2 separate regions of the Homo sapiens genome follow, and region 2 is linked to region 1. The links come from fine-mapping of genetic effects on gene expression. A gene starts in region 1. The other region holds a variant in brackets. All regions are shown on one strand. Distances are between the middles of the regions. Region 1 holds the start of TARBP1 (tRNA guanosine 2 -O-methyltransferase TARBP1). Region 2 overlaps TARBP1 (tRNA guanosine 2 -O-methyltransferase TARBP1).

The links.
Region 2: its variant is fine-mapped to the expression of TARBP1 in whole blood (TOPMed, PIP above 0.99).

The regions. Positions count from the first base shown.
Region 1 is chr1:234,476,859-234,482,236 of GRCh38, reverse strand. It overlaps TARBP1 (tRNA guanosine 2 -O-methyltransferase TARBP1), which reads left to right and starts at 3,058. Exons shown (of 30, transcript NM_005646.4): 1 at 3,058-4,064. The coding sequence starts at 3,134. RefSeq lists silencers at 2,942-3,131, 3,162-3,961.
Region 2 is chr1:234,406,797-234,412,174 of GRCh38, reverse strand. It overlaps TARBP1 (tRNA guanosine 2 -O-methyltransferase TARBP1), which reads left to right. Exons shown (of 30, transcript NM_005646.4): 23 at 1,644-1,730. Among named protein-coding and RNA genes, the nearest start is that of COA6-AS1, 36 kb to the right of the region's middle. The variant A/G (reference allele first, on the strand shown) is at 2,745.

The DNA.
Region 1 (5,378 bases):
GAAATATCACTATGGACAGGTCAGGAGGAAAAATAAGATGCTGAAAGAAAGGGAGAAGAAACAGCTGAGGAAGCAGAGAAAAGAAAGAACAGGACAAAGTCATCGATGAAAACCAGAGTGAGATAGTGTTTCAAGAAATAGGAAATACTCCACAGAGTCCATTCAGGTAAGAACGAAAAAGGGCAGCTCTGGCAATTAGGAATCGCTGCCCACATTGGTGAATCAGAAAAGTGGTGTTGCGGGAAATATTCCGGGAGAGAAGACAGTGCAAACATGTTGTGGGTAAGAAGGAGAGTTCCACATGCCTGACCTGGGGCAGAGAAGGGGGAGTCAGGCTGTGAGGCCAGCTGGCTTTTCCCCAATCCCAATAAGCCTTCAATGCTGTGCTCTGCAGTTAGGCTTTACTCTGAAGGCAACAGAGAATAAAACACATAGGCCAACTTGTTTTTTTGTTTTGTTTTGTTTTGTTTTGTTTTTTGGTATAAGTCATTTTTCAAGATTGAGGTAAACTTTCTTTTTTTTTTTTTTGAGACCAAGTCTCACTCTGTCTCCAGGCTGGAGTGCAGTGGTGTGATCTTGGCTCACTGCAACCTCTGCCTCCTGGGTTCAAGCAATTCTCCTGCCTCAGCCTCCCGAGTAGCTGGGATTACAGGCGTGCACCACCATGCCCAGCTAATTTTTTTGTATTTCAGTAGAGATGGGGTTTCACCATGTTGGCCAGGATGGTCTCAATCTCCTGACCTCATGATCCACCGGCCTCGGCCTCCCAAAGTGCTGGGATTACAGGTGTGAGCCACTGCGCCCGGCTGATTGAGGTAAACTTTCTGCAGAGCGAAATGCATAGATCTTAAGGGTTCAGTTCAAGGAGTCTTGACAAATGTGTAACAACACCCTGATCAACATAAAATATTTTCATCACCCCAGAAAGTTCCCTTGTGCCCAATTCTAGTCAAATCTCTACTCCCTATATGCAACTACTGTTCTCATTTCTATCCTTCAGATTACTTTTGTCTCTTCTTGGATTTCATATAAATGAAATCACGAGGATGTAAACGTTGTGACTGGCTTCCTTTGTTTAACATATTGTTTCTGAGACTTATCCATGTAAAGCGGATTAGCAATTCATTGTCTTATTGCTGGGAGCATTATTATATAGATAGATCACAATTTTTTATTCATTCTTCAATTTGATGCACATGTAGGTTGTTACCTAACACCTACTAGGTTGTTATAAGCTTTTGGCTATAACGAATAATGTTGTCAAAAACATTCTTCTGCAAGCTTTTTTTTTTGAAACATGTTTTCATTTATTTTAGGTAATTACCTGGGGGTGAAATCGCTGAATCATAAAGCAGCTATATTATAACTTTACGAGAAACAGTTTCTAAAGTGACTGTACCGTTTTCATGCCCACCAGTAATGTATGAGAATTCCAGTTGCTCCACACCCTTGGTCTTTGCCGTTTAGTGTTTTCGAGCTTTTACATGTTAGCCATTCTCATCAGTATGAAGTGGTACCTCATTGTGGGTTTAATTTGCATTTCTCTGATGACTAATGATGTTGAACACTTTTCCAAGTGCTTATCATTTGTGTATCTTCGTTTGTTAAGTGCTCAAGACATTTACCCATTTATATTTGTTAGATATATGTTGACAGAAACAATAGTTTTCTGCACATTTTATGTTGAAGGTAATTGATATTTACTGACATGTTAAAAGGGCTTAAAATAGAAACATTTATGCATTTTGTCAATGAAAAACGGAATGACTGAAATATGAAAAAAGTCTTGCCTGTGTAATGTCAGATAACCTTAAAGTCAGATAACTTTATATAAAAATAACTGTAAATTTAAATAACTAATTTTTGTCTTATCCATTATGTTATTATATGTCAAGCTCTTTGAAGTTGGGACCCTGTTTTCTCTATTGACTAAGAGGCAGATCTTTGTGTTTAGTAGCGAAGAAAACCCTATGTCACTGATCTAGTTTGTCTCAAATTGAGCCAGGAACCAAATCCACACCATGCATGCCGAGGTGAGGTTTTCTGTTTCTCTATTTAGCAATGGATGCTGTCAGAAATACAGAAAAGACAGACACAGGGACTATTTTTGAGTTTGCACATGGGAGCACATGCATTGTGCAGGAGGCTCTGCATCCTGGAGTCATCTTGGGCACTTGGCTGTGAGGGCTGGCGTGGGCATCTTGGTTTTAGCTGAATCCTAGCACATTGCTATAGGTACCTCTAAGGCAGGAGAATAGGGCCTGGAGGCAGGGAATCCAAAAACTCCCTAGAACCAAATCAGATAGAAACACTTCAGCTATGACAGGAAATATCCTCTTCATTTACATAGGGAGTACACCAAGTAAATAACTTTGTAACTTCATTTTATCCTCTTCAGTTACATAGTGTGTACACCAAGTAACCAATTGAAACCTCTATAGGTATTTAAACCCCAGAAAATTCTGTAACCAGCCCCCCTTGAGCGGCTTGCTTGGGTCTGCCCCCACCCTGTGGAGTGTACTTTTGCAATAAATCTCTGCTTTTGTGGCTTCATTCTGTCTTTGCTTTGTTTGTGCGCTTTGTCCAATTCTTGGACCTGGACACCCTCCACCGGTAACACTTCTCACTCCTGGCCTTACGTCTAAATCATTCTTGTGTTTTCATGACTTATTTTTAATGCAGATGTCCAGAACCAATTTCAGACCTACTGTGTCAGTCTCTTTGTGGATGGTGCCCATCATGCAACGTTTGGAAAATAATCTAAAGTGATTCTGCTGTGCACCTTCTGTGAACTGGTTTATGCTCACAGGCACGCCTGATTTAGGGTCCTGGGCAGACCAACCTCCAATCAGGAATCGATGAAGCTGGTGTAGATACTACATTAACTTTTAACGAAGGCCTCGTTTCTCCTAAAAATAAGAGACCAGGTGGGTTCTATCTAGGCAGGGTTGGTGGCAGGAACCCAAGGGAAGCTGAGCTGCACCAAGCCGGGCTGGGATCCCCCTCTCTGCGGCCGCGCGCCCGGCTCCGTCGGCGCACGCGCACGTAGGGGCCGGCCGGTCCTGTGCGCACGCATCGCACACGCCGGCGCCTTCCTTTGGGAGCCCGGGCCGGTGGCGCGGGCGCTCGGCAAATGGAGTGGGTGCTCGCGGAAGCGCTGCTCTCGCAGAGCCGGGACCCCCGGGCCCTGCTTGGGGCGCTGTGCCAAGGGGAGGCATCCGCGGAGCGCGTGGAGACGCTGCGCTTCCTTCTGCAGCGGCTCGAGGACGAGGAGGCGCGCGGCAGCGGGGGCGCAGGCGCGCTCCCGGAGGCGGCGCGCGAGGTGGCTGCAGGGTACCTCGTGCCACTGCTGCGGAGCCTGCGCGGACGCCCCGCGGGCGGCCCGGACCCCAGTCTGCAGCCTCGCCACCGCCGGCGCGTGCTGAGGGCGGCGGGCGCGGCCCTGCGCTCGTGCGTCCGCCTGGCCGGGCGTCCGCAGCTGGCGGCCGCGCTGGCTGAGGAGGCGCTGCGCGATCTGCTCGCCGGGTGGCGCGCGCCTGGCGCCGAGGCTGCCGTGGAAGTGCTAGCAGCCGTCGGGCCATGTTTGCGGCCCCGCGAGGACGGGCCGCTACTGGAGCGCGTGGCGGGGACCGCCGTCGCCCTGGCGCTGGGCGGGGGCGGGGACGGGGATGAGGCCGGGCCTGCCGAGGACGCGGCGGCGCTGGTGGCCGGGCGACTGCTGCCAGTGCTGGTCCAATGTGGCGGGGCGGCGCTGCGGGCCGTGTGGGGCGGGCTGGCCGCGCCTGGGGCGTCCCTGGGGTCCGGCCGCGTAGAGGAGAAGCTGCTGGTCCTGAGCGCCCTGGCCGAGAAGCTGTTGCCCGAGCCCGGCGGCGACCGCGCCCGCGGCGCGCGCGAGGCGGGCCCGGACGCCCGGCGCTGCTGGCGCTTCTGGAGGACGGTGCAGGCGGGGCTGGGCCAGGCGGACGCCCTGACGCGCAAGCGAGCGCGCTACCTGCTGCAGAGGGCGGTGGAGGTGTCGGCGGAGCTGGGGGCCGACTGCACCTGCGGGCCCCAGGAAGGAAACGGTACCTGCCTCTTTGCCCCCCAGCCTAGTGCTACCTACTTGGCTGCCCCAGAGGGGAGTCTTCCTGCTTCTAAAAACTAGCTTATCGGGGTCGTCACTCCGATCCATGCAGAATTTGGTTATTCCGCGTTGCTCCCCTAAAGCCTGAAAACCTTTGGAACCCCTTCTCGAGGGTGTTCTTTGAAGTCACAAATCACTGCGGTTGGGAACGTTCTAACCCAGAGCCGGTGGAATACAGCACCCCTGGAATAGTTTAGGAAGATAATGGAGCCCGTGCAAGATTTTACAGACCCAAATCTGCACTATATCATGGTAGATTCAACCCAATAGAAACGGTTGATATCTATCAAGTTGAAAGAAAAATTATTTGTTATTTATCTGTACTGACCAGTGAATTAGTGAATTGAGTGTTGAGTGTTAGAATTAAGCGTCATAGAGGCCATCACACTCTTCTGAAATTTCCCCTGGTAATTAGGAACAGGATTTACTAATATTTGTTAAACATGTTTCTTAAGTCGACCTTTTGAGTGTATTTTTGCCATTGATTTAATAGAATGAATCAGATTTTATTTTTTAACTGTTTGAGCTTTGCTCCCTACTATGTGCAAGAGTAATGAAACAGCAAGGCCTCCCTTCAAGTTGTTACGTTACTGTTGATTGGTTTGACTTCACTCATGTTAAATTTGGGTTTAAACTGTCAAGTACAAAGTAGATTGACTCAAAATTGTCTCAATAGAATATTTCTACTTTTTCAACGGTAGCTGACCATTTATTACAGGTAAAGGATTTTTGTTTGGCTGAAGTTATGAGGTTATATTTTCAAGTAATTTTAAAACATTAGAGAGTAAATATTTGAACAGTCCACAGATAGGTGTGATCATCCCTGAGAGTTTTCACTGGAAAACATTTTTTAAATCATCAAAAATTAAAACATTCATTTATTTACATGAGTCTGTTATTTTGCAGTTTTGTTTGTTTGTTTGTTTGTTTTATGGAGTTTCGGTCTTGTTGCCCAGGCTGGAATGCAATGGCACAATCTCCGCTCACCGCAACCTGCACTTCCCGGGTTCAAGCGGTTCTCCTGCCTCAGCCTCCAGAGTAGCTGGGATTACAGGCATGCGCCACCATGCCCCACTAATTTTGTATTTTTAATAGAGACGGGGTTTCACCGTGTTGGTCAGGCTGGCCTCAAACTCCTCACCTCAGGTGATCTGCCCGCCTTGGCCTCCCAAAGCGCTGGGATTACAGGCGTGAGCCACCGCGCTCGGCCAGTTATTTTGCAGTTTTAGGGATAAGCAATGGTGCTTCCATGCTT
Region 2 (5,378 bases), 70 kb after region 1:
TGGGATTACAGGCATGGGCCACAGCGCCCAGGCCCATATTGTCATTCTTAAAGGAAGTTACCTCCCCAAGTATTTAGATCCCCTTATTTTAGGTTTTCATAGCACATAAATAGTACTGCTTACAGTTAGGATTTTAATCTGATTTGATTTTTATCTTCTCCAGTAGATTTTTAAGTTACAGGAACTTGTTTCTATAGTAACTGTCATGTAGAAGACATTCAGTAACTGTTAATTAAATAAAGGAATTAAATAATAATAAATGATTTGCCTCTTGGATTGGTTTCCAAACTGGTCTTCCTGCTTATATGCTCTTTTCTTTCCAATCTGTCTGGCATTTATCAGTTTATTATCACTAAAATAATGTATTATTCCAAAACCACTATGATTATGAAATAATAATAGTTTCAGATTCCAGTTGAACAGTCTTTTTCAACTGGAATCAGAGGTTTCCAGATTCCAGTTGAACAGTCTTCTTAAAAAATTTTCCCTAAGATAGCTGATTAAGTCTTCTATAGGTTTTTCGCTATAGCTTTTTAAAGCCTCTACAGTATGATTCCATTTAACTTTTGAGCCTTATCTCCATCACTCTCTGCCAAACTGGCTTTGTCTCCTCTTGCTGCCTTTCCCTTAAGTTTGCCTCTGTGTCTTTGTTCTTGTTCACTTATCTGTTCTCTAACCTTCCTGCTCCTTCTCCAGGCCAGTCCTTCCCATCCTGAAGGCCTCACCTCTCCTGAAGTGAGCATGCCCTTGGCTCTGCCACAGATAATCAACCCTTGGTATCCATGGGGGATTGATTCCAGGCCCCCTACGGATGCCAAAACCTGAGGATGCTCAAGTCTTTTGTTTAGAATGGCATAGTAGTTGCACATAACTGATGTGTATCCTCCCATATACTTTAATAATCTTAGATTACTTATAATGTCTAGTACAATGTACATGCTATGTAAATCGCTGTTATACAGTTTTAAACTTTGTATTACTTTTTAATTGCATTATGTTTTAAAAATTTTTTGTTAAATATTTTTCATCCACGGTTGGTTGAACTCATAGATGCAGAACTCGTGCATACAGAGGGCACACTGTACTTTATTTTATGTTTTTTTTTGAGACAGGGTCTTGCTCTGTTGCCCATGCTGGAGTGCAGTGGCACGATCTCAGCTAACTGCAAACTCTGCCCTGGGTTCAGGCAATTCTTCTACCTCAGCCTCCCCAGTAGCTGGGACTACAGGTGTGCGCTACCATGCCCAGCGAATTTTTGTATTTTTTGGTAGACATGGTTTCACCATGTTGGCCAAGCTGATCTCAAACCCCTGGCCTGAAATGATCCACCCGCCTCAGCCTCCCAAAGTGTTGGGATTATAGGCGTGAGCCACTGTGCCCCGCTGTACTTAGAGTTGAGTTATTCAGTACTTTATGTGACCTGCTGATTTTTGTGTGCACTGGCATTTGGCTCTAGGAAATATTTCCTTTGCTTTCAGTCCTGTGCCTGTTGCCGCAGCCCCCTTCCCACCCAGACCCCGGGCTGTTCCAGGGAAGAGGCTGCCTCCTGTCCTGGGCCCTCATAGAGTCCAGCACGGCGCTTTCACGTGCATGTTTCACAGTAAGCTTTGAATCAATATTTGTTTATCTGATTATTTTTTCAGGGTGAAGAAAATCTTAAAACAAGCATTTGTACGTTTTTAGCAGTTTTATCACATTTAGACATTATTACTCAAAATATTCCAGAAAAGGTAAGTTTGTTTGTAAGAATTTAAACTTGACTGTAAAAAAAGAATTGTATGTATTTGTACCAATTTTTTATATGTAGAGCATTCCTGTGAATGTTTGCAATTTTTCCCTTTCCTTTCCACTGCCCTGCTAATGTGCACATGTATTAGACACAAATACCCAGTAAATGGGAATTACCCATTTACATGCATACACACTGAGGTGTGCTTGAGTACATACCAAATTTATAGACAAACTACTGGGTAAGTTTTTGTTGATACTTGTATAAAATTAATAATTATTTATAATTCTTAGGATTAGGATTACTTAGGATTCTTTAAACAGGACTTCCCTTACCTTCTTTGACTGAATGGTAGTTATTTAACAAATGCTCGTGCAAAGAAACTTATGGCCAGACTATTAAAAGCTGTTGGGTAATTGAAGGTGATATAAAATGACTGTCATCATTTGGAGTGTGCAGTACAGTTACTTCATGTTCCTCAGGTTTAGAACAATTTCCCCTGTAAGTTCTCACACAGATAGGCAGAAATCATAACTAATTTTGGTTAATCACTATGGCAGCCGTTGAAGAATTTAAGAGAACCTGCCAGTAAGATTTGGAATAAGATTCTATATTATTGCATCCACAGAAAAGAATGTACTGATATACTATAAACTCTAGGAGAAAACTTAATTGAAATAGTGTTATTAAGTGTTGAAAGTACCATAAAAATATAAGGGAAAATAAGCTTTCCTAGAATTTTTCAGTGTTCTAGTTTTTAAACAGTGATGTTTTTTATTAACCTATTTCATCCATTCAAAGACAGGCCTTTCTCCACACCACATTTTCCTCTAAAATCATGATAACACTTTTAAATTGATGGTGTCTTCCAGTGTGTATCAGCCAGATGGCAGTGTGTTACAGTTCCAGGAAAACTCGTTCACATCTTCCGTAAGATCAAGAAGGCTCTGGCATCAGATAAGATCAAATGTTGTCTTTCTGTTTTAAATATGTGCCGCAAAGAGATTTGCTTACA[A/G]TCTATTGAGAAAGCTAAAACAGAGCAGACATTGTCCTGTTGCGGGGTAGATGAATAGCCTAAGAATAGTTTAGACAAATTCTGAAAACGAATTTACCTTAGAAGATGTTCATGTTAGATCTGGTAAAAGTAACATGTTATTTTTCTGTCAAGCCCTTTTTGTACTTGCCGTTTATTACATATTTTAGATTTATTTTTTATTTTCGAAACATCCAAAAAGGAATGCTAATTAGTGAAATGGAAGAATTTCCATTTCAACACCTTAGGAAAAAAAAAACTGACTTGACATACCTAAGAAAAGGCCAAGTTGATTTACTTTGTCAGTCTCTTCATTTGTGATACGTAAAGTCCGTTGTTACCTAGATAAATGTAGGTTTGATTTCTTGGAAGCAATCACTTAAGACTTTCCATTTTCTTCAAAGCATCTTACTTAACCTGCATGTGGGATCTGTACTGAGCAATTAGAGATTCAAAACAACTGTCACACACGACAGAGGTGGTAACCGCCCAACAGGTTCACCTCTTCCGCCGCCTACACAGAGCCGATTTATCAAGACAGGAATTGCAATAGAGGAAGAGTACACAGAGCTGCTTGTGCAGGAGACTGGAGTCTTATTAGTACTCAAATCGATCTCCCTGAGCATTCGGGGATCAGAGTTTTTAAGGATAATTTGGTGGGAGGGGGAAGGCCAGTGAGTCAAGGGTGTTGATTGGTTGGGTCGGAGATGAAATCATAAGGAATTGAGGTGTCCTTTTGTGCTAAGTCAGTTCCAGGGTGGGGGCCACGAGATCAGATGAGCCAGTTAATCGATCTGGGTGGTGCCAGCTGATCCGTCGAGTGCAGGTCTGCAAAATATCTCGAGCACCGACATAGGAGCAGTTTAGGGAGGGTCAGAATCTTGTAGCTTCCAGCTACATGACTCCTGAACCATAATTTCTAATCTTGAGGCTAATTTGTTAGTCCTACAAAGGAAATCTAGTCCCCAGACAAGAAGGGGGTTTGTCTTGGGAAAGGGCTGTTATCATCTTTGTTTTAAACTATAAACTAAACTAAGTTTCTCCCAAAGTTAGTTGAGCCTACACCCAGGAATGAACAAGGACAGCTTGGAGGTTAGAAGCAAGATGGAGTTGGTTAGGTCAGATCTCTTTCCCCACCTCAGTTACAATTTTGCAAAGGCGGTTTCAGAATCAGAGCACGAAGTGTTCCTATAAAAGGAAAAAAAAAAAAAACCTTTCTTAATTATGCTCATAGTTGTGTATTGTCCTGTCAGCTTGCTCATTGTGTAAAATGAGCGGACATGAGAATTCACGAGCAGAGCTTTTTACACTGATATGTATGAAAGCATCATTTACGTCCTGAAAGCCCCAGCCGAGCGATCACTGGCAGTGCCAACATTTTTGAGTGTGGGCTCCATAGGAAGCACTGTTTTCCCTATTGAGAATTATAGTGGGTTTTTTTCATTTACGAGTAATGTATACCTAGCTCCAAGATCTTGGTTGCTAACACCATTCTCCAATAAAACGAACCAGGGATCGCTGGAGAAATAGCTGATTCTAAAACTAGGGCAGAAAGTATACAAGATGAGCCTGGAGCATCTTGTAGAGTCAGAGAGCAAGGCAGAACTTTATACATACAGTGATGTGAGATGGGCATGCAGAGGGAAGATGTTCCCAGTGGCTGAAGCTGAAACAGTGTGAGCAACAAAATAAAGCAGTGTTGGATCACAACCCAAAGAATAAAATAAATATCCTCGAGCCCACACCGATATAAATAAATGATTGAATCAATAAATGAGTCCAGGCACTGTGGCTCATGCCTGTAATCCTGCACTTTGGGAGGCCAAGGCGGGTGGATCACTTGAGGTCAGGAGTTCGAGACCAGCCTGGCCAACATGGTGAAACCCCGTCTCTACTAAAAATACAAAAATTAGCCAGGCATGGTGGTACATGCCTATAATCCCAGCTACTCAGGAGGTGAGGCAGGAGAATCACTTGAACCCGGGAGGCAGAAATTGCAATGAGCCAAGATTGCAGGACTGCACTCCAGCCTAGGCGACAGAGTGAGACTCCATCTCAAAAAAAAAAAAAAGGATGGACAAGACAAATCTCTTGTAAAAAAAATTACAAGTAATTTTTATAGAAGCTCTGCCCTGAGGGAGGGGGAGCGTGACTTCTCACTCCTTCAGTGTGGGCTGCACAAGTGACTTCCTTCCATATGGGATCGTTATAACAAAAGACTGTAACAAGGGCTATGGGAGTTATAAGACAGGAATTGTGGACAAAAACCAGTGTATATCATAACATCACACCTTGTAATGTTGGCAGTACAGTCACTGACCTTTGATAAATGTTGATGACATGTTGAGTAAAGGAATGAGAGAAAGAGGATTGTTTATCTCTGTTTTTATCCTTCTCAGAGAAACTTAGAGTAACAAGTGTGTTATCAGCCATGCTGATGCCTTTGGTAAACTATTGTGTGAATATGGTTGTTTTGAATTGGTCAGTAGAAACTGGGCTGCCAGGCGCAGCCGGTAAGCATTTCCATGTGAGCCTTAGGGGAGAAGTGCATTTGGTAGGAGCATCAAAATAGCTTCTGATATTTCATTAAAAGTTTGGGTCCGTCTGGTTCCTTCA